Linked DNA regions of Homo sapiens. The protein of the gene in region 1 purifies or fractionates together with the protein of each later gene. This does not show direct contact. Each region holds a gene or a part of one and is shown in the gene's direction. Other genes may lie near its edges.

What was found.
Region 2: the proteins of KCNK7 (region 1) and SLC44A1 purify together in Homo sapiens (affinity purification with mass spectrometry; one large-scale study listed by BioGRID and IntAct). This does not show direct contact.

Annotation. Positions count from the first base shown.
Region 1 is NC_000011.10:65,592,951-65,597,518, reverse strand, and holds the start of KCNK7 (potassium channel subfamily K member 7), read left to right. Parts: upstream 1-1,718; 5' UTR 1,719-1,746; coding exon 1,747-2,065; intron 2,066-3,644; coding exon 3,645-4,043; coding exon of another isoform or gene 4,044-4,099; exon of another isoform or gene 4,100-4,135; coding exon of another isoform or gene 4,136-4,176; exon of another isoform or gene 4,177-4,308; coding exon 4,309-4,514; 3' UTR 4,515-4,568. UniProt on the Homo sapiens protein: Probable potassium channel subunit. No channel activity observed in vitro as protein remains in the endoplasmic reticulum. May need to associate with an as yet unknown partner in order to reach the plasma membrane.
Region 2 is NC_000009.12:105,250,903-105,254,711, forward strand, and holds part of SLC44A1 (choline transporter-like protein 1), read left to right. Parts: intron 1-3,809.

The DNA of each region.
Region 1 (4,568 bases):
TTCAACCTGGCCACATGGTGAAACCCCATCTCTACTAAAAATACAAAAATTAGCCAGGTGTGGTGGTGCATGCCTGTAGTCCCAGCTACTCTGGAGGCTGAGGCAGGAGAATTGCTTGAACCTGGAAGGTGGAGGTTGCAGTGAGCCAAAATCACGCCACTGCACTCCAGCCTGGGCAACAGAGCAAGACTCCGTCTCAAAAAAAAAAAAAACAAAAAACCATAGGCCGGGCATGGTGGCTCACGCCTGTAATCCCAGCACTTTGGGAGGCCGAGACGGACAGATCACAAGGTCAGGATTTTGAGACCAGCCTGGCCAATATGGTGAAACCCCGTCTCTACTGAAAAAAATATATATATATACAAAAATTAACCAGGCGTGGTGGCAGGTGCCTGTAGCCCCAGCTACTTGGGAGGCTGAGGCAGGAGAATAGCTTGAACCCGGGCGGCGAAGGTTGAGTGAGCCGAGATTGCACCACTGCACTCCAGCCTGGGCGACAGAGCGAGACTCCATCTCAAAAAAAAGAGTAGTAAGTTCCACCCACCTCCCAGTATGGTGACTTGCCATGGCATCTGGCACCCCTGACAGTTCTCTTCACACTGCCATGGGGGCTCTGGCACTCCCACACCATACCCTAGGGCAGGGTCCCTCCCTCGGCCTCTGTCCATTCTCTTCACACTGCCATGGGGGCTCTGGCACTCCCACACCATACCCTAGGGCTGGGTCCCTTCCTTGGCCTCTGTCCTCAGCCCCTCTGACGTTAGAGGAGTTGGAACCCAGGCTCCCCCTTCCCCTCTCCCAGGTGCCCCATGGCAGCCCAGACTCTGTGTCTGCAGTTCAGGGGCAGGGAGTCAGGAGGGCAGGCACAAAGCGTTCTCAGGAAGAACTGGCAATCGGGCGCAAGGGTATCATCTGCCCGGGTGCTCTGGGCACCCTGGAGTCCTCTCCCCACCTCCCACCCCCACCTGATCCTTCCCAGCTGCCACCATTCCTCTCCCACCACACCACCCAGGCCAAAATCACTCCATCCATGACGCCTACAGTAGCCCAGCGTAGGTCTCCCTGGACCACATTTATCCTCAAGGGCCTGTGTCCTTATCCCCCCTTCACCCCCAACTCTCCCCTGCCACAGCCAGCCCTCTGTTCCTCTCACACCCCAAGCTCATTCCTACCTTCACTGGCCTCTTACTCCCCAGCTGAAATATCACCTCCTTAGCAGAGCTTTCCCAGTGAGATAACCCCCCCGCTCCCCGCAGAGCTCTCCCATCACCCAGGGTGTTTCCTTCATGGAACTCATGACAATGTGAGGTTGCCATGTTTCTTTGCTAAGAGGTTTCTTGTGTAAACACCAGGAAGGAAAGGACCTGTGCCTGTCCTCTTCCCTAAGCACTTGAATGAATGAATGAATGAATGAATGTGGTATGGGTGCCTGAGTGAGCAGGACCTTGAATAAGTGTGAGGTCCTCTCTAGGCTTCAGCTTCCTCCGCCTCCTCCCCTCACCGCAGCCGCCTTCCTCCACCCATCCCCACCATCCCAGCTGCTGTGAAATGGGCAAATGTCTTGCCTCCAGGACCTGGGAAGGGTGATGCAGCTCACCTCCCTCCTGTTCACACCCCAGCCACCCCAGCCATCCCAGCCGGGTCCCAGCCACCCACACAGCACCTCCTCCTGGCCCCGCCCTGCCCAGCCCCTCCCAGGTGCCTGAGGTGGAGCCGCCAGTTCCCACAGCACCCCAGCGGCCTGCCATGGGGGGTCTAAGGCCCTGGTCCCGATACGGGCTCCTGGTTGTGGCCCACTTGCTGGCCCTGGGGCTTGGGGCTGTGGTGTTCCAGGCCCTGGAGGGGCCTCCTGCATGCAGGCTTCAGGCTGAGCTCAGGGCAGAGCTGGCAGCCTTCCAGGCAGAGCATAGGGCCTGCCTGCCACCCGGAGCTCTGGAAGAGCTGCTGGGCACTGCCCTGGCCACCCAGGCCCATGGGGTCTCCACCCTGGGCAACAGCTCAGAGGGCAGGACCTGGGACCTTCCCTCAGCCCTGCTCTTCGCTGCCAGCATCCTCACCACCACAGGTAAGAGAGCCAGGCAGCCAAGTCGGGGGGTGCGGCTCCAAGAGGCCATGGCTCCCTGGGGGCTTTGGGGTTCATGCAGCCCTTCCTTCAGCCCCAAAGAGCCAGATGGAGCCCAGGCCCTGTGAGGCCTGACATCACAGCTGGGGCTCCCCACCAACACACCCCAACTGGTGCCTCCACTTCAACTGCCAGGAAGGGTGTGGCCTCCCCAGTCCCACCCCAGGCACCCTTTGAGACCCAGGAGAGCTGCCCAGATGCCACAGCCTGTGGCCAGATAGGGGATACAATACAGTGGGATGGATTCTTGGATGGAAGCAAATAGAATGAACCTGGGAAGGACAGATCAGGACCATGGCCTCGGGTGGGGGAGTGAGGGAAGATAGGGGAGGAAGTCGGCATGAGATGCTTGTGGATCAGGAGGGCACAGACAGGGATGAGGGAGTCCTGCAGAGAAATCGCGTGGGCACAGGCCCAGGGAAAAGCAGCAATGAGACCCACAGCCCTGGGTTTTCGTATTTTTTGCCCCACAAAGTGTCTCAGTATTTTTTGAATTGGAATTTGTATTTCCAACTTTTTTTTTTTTTGAAACGGTGTCTGACCCTGTCACCCAGGCTGGGGTGCGGTGGTGCGATCTTGGCTCACTGCAACCTCCACCTCCCGGGTTCTAGCAATTCTCCTGCCTCAGCCTCCTGAGTAGCTGGGACTACAGGCATGCACCACCATGCCCGGCTAATTTTTGTGTTTTTAGTAGAGACGGGGTTTTGCCATGTTGGCCAGGCTGTTCTCAAACTCCTGACCTCAAGTGATCCACCTGCCTCAGCCTCCCAAAGTGTTGGGATTACAGGTGTGAGCCACTGTGCCCAGCTCATATTTCCAACTTCTTTTGGAAAATCAGGAAACCCACTCACACTGAGCCAGAATCCCTGCAAGGCAACATCCTGACTGGAGCAGAATGGGGCCTGCCCTTTGGATACAGCTCACACTTTCCAGTGTACCCCTGTCCCCACCACTCCTGTTTGTCTCCCATCTGGCTCCGGTAGGCATGTGCGTTTGCAGCTCTGTATTAGCTGATCCTGTTCTCCCAGCACACCCCGCACTCCCACCCCTCCCCGCCTGGCACATGCCCTCTCTCGCCCATGCTGCCTCTTTGCAGCCCTTCATGATTTGCCTGCCCGACTCCCCCACCAGAAGGGGCAGGGCCTGGGCTGATTCAGATCCCAGTACAAAGCCTGGCACACAGGACATGACACACATTTGGGGAAAGAGTGGATGATATTCCACCAGCTGTGGAATCGGGAGTATCTGTTAAGGGCAGCGCAGTTCTCAGAATTGTCCCAGCTACAAAAGGCCTGAGGAACTGTCTTCTTTCATCCTTTCATTTTCCAAAAAAGAAAAGAATGGCCTAGAGAGGGTAAGGGATCCCCTGACGAAGAGGAGCAGAGCCAGCTAGAACCTGGGCCTGGCCAGTTCAAGGCCACCAGAGGGCAGCCTTCTGCGGAAGGCAGTATTGGGGTAGGCAGGGACCCCAGCAGACATGGCACTCAGAGCTCTCACTGTCCACTGACTCTCTCTTCTCCAGGTTATGGCCACATGGCCCCACTATCGCCAGGCGGAAAGGCCTTCTGCATGGTCTATGCAGCCCTGGGGCTGCCAGCCTCCTTAGCTCTCGTGGCCACCCTGCGCCATTGCCTGCTGCCTGTGCTCAGCCGCCCACGTGCCTGGGTAGCGGTCCACTGGCAGCTGTCACCGGCCAGGGCTGCGCTGCTGCAGGCAGTTGCACTGGGACTGCTGGTGGCCAGCAGCTTTGTGCTGCTGCCAGCGCTGGTGCTGTGGGGCCTTCAGGGCGACTGCAGCCTGCTGGGGGCCGTCTACTTCTGCTTCAGCTCGCTCAGCACCATTGGCCTGGAGGACTTGCTGCCCGGCCGCGGCCGCAGCCTGCACCCCGTGATTTACCACCTGGGCCAGCTCGCACTTCTTGGTAAGTCCAGCCACCTAACAGCGTGTGGGGGAAGGGGGAAGAGGAGCCTGGACTAGGACTCCCATAAATCACTGGGGGGCTGGGCCTTGCAGGTGGAGGGACCTCACTCCAGGGCACGGCGTGGGAGGGGTAGTCGAAGAGCTCTGGTGGCAGCGTTGAGAAGGGGGTGAGTGGTGCCAGTTGCCAGGGCAAGTCACTGCGCTGGGAGGTGGGCGGGGAGCATCACCAGAACCCAGGCGCTGCCCCAGCACCTTCTCCTCCCCAGGTTACTTGCTTCTAGGACTCTTGGCCATGCTGCTGGCAGTGGAGACCTTCTCTGAGCTGCCGCAGGTCCGTGCCATGGGGAAGTTCTTCAGACCCAGTGGTCCTGTGACTGCTGAGGACCAAGGTGGCATCCTAGGGCAGGATGAACTGGCTCTGAGCACCCTGCCGCCCGCGGCCCCAGCTTCAGGACAAGCCCCTGCTTGCTGAAGCGTCAGGTGACCGAGTTCAGCTCCGTAAGGTGGCGGCACCTGAGGAGGAAGC
Region 2 (3,809 bases), on another chromosome or scaffold:
CAGAGCAGGGCTAACCCATAATAGTACACCCAGAGTAGCCAGCATCAAAACTTTTAAAAGTTCCCCTGGTAGCCCTCGTGTGTCACCAAGTTTGAGAGCCACTCTTCCTTACCCTTTCTCTAGGTAATTTCATCCCTCGTATGGCTTCAGTTACAGTCTGTATGTTAACAGTTCCCAAACTAAATTACTGTCCTGGTCGCTGATCCTTATATCCAACTGATTAATTAGCATTTACACTAGAATATTGTACAGGCAACTCAAACTCAGCATGTTTAAATCTGTCCTCAAAATCGTACCCCTCACCCCCGGCTTTTTCAGTACTTTATCTCTGGTTCACCGAATGATACCAATGCCCTGGTTGTGGAAACTGGAGACTCGAGTCCTGTAGGGAACCTGCCTCTCACTCTTCTATATCTAGTCACCACATCTTGCCTCTTTGACCTTCTCAACGTCACTGCCAGCACTCCGGTTCAAGCCTCTGTCATCTCCAGCCCAGTACCTTGGTTACAGATCTCTCCGTAACTGTTCATGCTCCCTTCTAATTTTTCTTCGTATTGCAGTCTTGGTGATCTTTGAAAAATCCCAAGCTAATTGTGTTCCTCTCCTACTTAAAACCCTTTAATGGTTTCCCATTGCTCTTAGGACAAAGACCAGAACCCTTGACCCTGGACAACAAGACCCTGTGTGTGGCTGTTCTCCATCTCTCTATAGGGTCACCTTGTGGTGTGCTTTTCTTTGCTCATTGCACTGCAGCCTCACAGATTCTTCAGTTGGTTGTATTCCTTCCTCTTAGAGGGCTTTTGCATATGTGGTTCACTTGTCTAGGAGGCTCTTTGCTTTGCTCCCTGGCTTTTGGCTGGTTGCTTTAAGTTTCAGTCTGAAAGTCACTTCCTTGGAAAAGCCTTTTCTGATCCCTTCAAACTAGGCCATGTCTCCTCATTAAACTCTCATAGCCTTATGTGTTTTCCCTGTGAGCACTTAAAGCAGTAAACACGTAATTTTACAGTTAATATTAATGTCTAGACTAGGTGGCGGCAAACTACAGCCCATGGGCCAAATCTGACCTGCTACCTGTTTTTTATGGCTTACGAGCTAAGAATGGTCTTTACGTTTTTAAGTGGTTGAAACAAATCAAAAGAATATGATTTCATGAGAAATTTATTTAATAAATTATGAAATTTTAATTTCATTCACAAGGTTTTATTGGGACACAGTCATATTAATTCATTTACTTGTCTATAGCTGCTTTCATATGACAGTGTCAGAGTTGAGTAGTTGTGACAGAGGCCTTATGGCCTGCAAGCATAAATATTTACTCTGTGTCCCTTTACAGAAAATGTTTGCTGACCCTTGCTCTAGGCTGAGTTGATGAAGAGAGGGGCCGTGTTTGCTTTGTTTATTGCCATCTTGGTGCTTAGCTGGTACCAATACATGGTAGGTACTCATGAAATATTTGAATGAATTAACAGATATTCTGTTTCCCTCCATGGATAGAGGTGATTGAACTCCTACCTTAGAACACTGGGGTTTTAAAATTCATTATAAGAATTTTAAAACGATTCTTCTTTGGAAGACTCTTAACAGCATGTTCAGGGCTCTCTTAAGCAGCTTGTCTGTTGAAGGTATACATGTCACGTATGGAGCAAGTATACTTATAAAGGTGTAAGTTACTGGGTCAAGGTGGACAGGAAAGGGCTAGTGCGCTCAAGTAATGGACCAGTCAGATTTACAGTGGTGATGTTTTTATAGCAGGCACAAATGGGTGAGACTTTATGGCAAGCGTTGTAAAGAAAACGTGTTTGAGCTGGTGAAAAATTTAAGTCATTAAAGAGTTAGACATTGTTATCTCTGCTGTGGGAATTCACTCTGTGAAGATGGTTAAAGTTTTTGACACAGTAATATTTCCTCCTTTTTGATACTTTTTGTTTTCTAATTTATTTGGAATATAGCATAGCATAATGTTCCAATTTTGAATTTATGCATTGTGTAAAATTTAGTAATTTTTTTGGCAATTTAAAAAACAGATTTACATTTTTCAGTATGTTTTATTATACTCAATAGAGGGATGCCAGTTTTTCCCCTCTGGGGGACTCCTTTGTAATTGTATAATATGATAATGTTGTATAATAGGATTCATTTAACAAACATTTGGTTGATAAACCCCTGGAATTTATTTTTTTGTGAAAATATTATTATTCCTTTTAGTTACTCTCTACAATATCCCACAACCAGATATTTAGACTTATTTAGTAGGAAAACCCTTAAAAGCAACTTTTATTCAAATTTTTAAGGTTGCCAGAAATGCTGAAAATTATTAAATGGAAGTGTTTGACTTCTGGATATGTTTATAATATGTAAAGTAAAAAAACCAGCAGGAAGATGGAAAAATTGGAAACATGATTACTTCAAGATATTTAAGTAGCAGGGAAGGTATTAAAGTTTGTTTGTTTTTGTAGATTTGTGATAATATAATCATGATTATGATCTCAGAAAATTCTTCATTTTGAACTACTTATGATGTTACAGCTATAAGAAATAAAAAAGGCTGGGTTTGGTGGCTCACACGTATAATCCCAACACTTTGGGAGGCTGAGGCAGGAGGATTACTTGAAGCCAGGAGTTCTAGACCATCCTGGGCAATATAGTGAGACCCATCTCTACAAAAAATAGCAAAACAAATTAGCCAGGTATGGTGTCGTGTGCTTTTGGTCTCAGCTACTCAGGAGGCTGAGGTGGGAGGAAGATCTCTTGAGTCTGGGAGGTTGAGGCTGCATTGAGCTATGATCGTGCCTGTATTCCGGCCTGGGTGGCAGAGCCAGACCCTGTCTTTATTTTTTTTTGAGACAGAGTCTCGCTCTGTTGCCCAGGCTGGAGTGCAGTGACACAATCTCAGCTCACTGCAATCTCCGCCTCCCGGGTTTAAGCGATTCTCCTGCCTCAGCCTCCAAGTAGCTTGGACTACAGGTACCCGCCACCACACCTGGCTAATTTTATGTATTTTTAGTAGAGATGAGGTTTCTATGTTGGCCAGGCTGGTCTCGAACTCCTGACCTTGTGATCTGCCTGCCTCGGCCTCCCAAAGTGCTGGGATTATAGGCGTGAGCCACTGTGCCTGGCTGAGACCCTGTCTTAAACAAAGAAACAAACAAATAATAATAATAAAAAAAACCCTTAAATCCAAATAGCTAAAACATTAAGGAAAATTGATTATCTCCTATAGGTCAAGGGGTAGGGTAGCTTTCAGGTTGGTTAGTTCAGTGGCTTGATGTCAGCAAGGACGTAAGTTCTCTCCTTGTTTCTTTTTTGTCATTTTACGGAAGGTAGCTTTTTCTTAATTAGCTCCCCTCAAGATCCCAAGATGGCTATGGCTCTTCTTACCGTCTTTTGCTGAGCTGACAATCTCCAGTGGTTTTCCTTTCATGGGAATTAGAGAGGGCTGCACACTTATCCCTAAACAAGCTCTAACAAGAGGAAGGCAAAGGACTCTGCAATTGATTTAGAGTAACCAGGACTTCCCTCTGAGTCAAGTGAGGGGCAGGGCAACACCGGAACAAAAGGAGGACTTTGCCAGCAAGGTGGCGGCAGGGATGCAGGATTGGGCGTGGTGACTGGGTAGGCAGCCAATACTATCTGCTATGGTTTTGCCATTTTCTTTTGTCTTTAAATCAGACTTCTATAGTGTTTCCTAACATTTTACTTATAGCCCCATTATGAACTTCACAGTTCGTAGTTCAAAGTCACACAGTTAGTTATCTTCTTGTCCTAGTGATGCTGCTCAAGCCATTGCTGAAACCCCTGTCTTTCTTTTT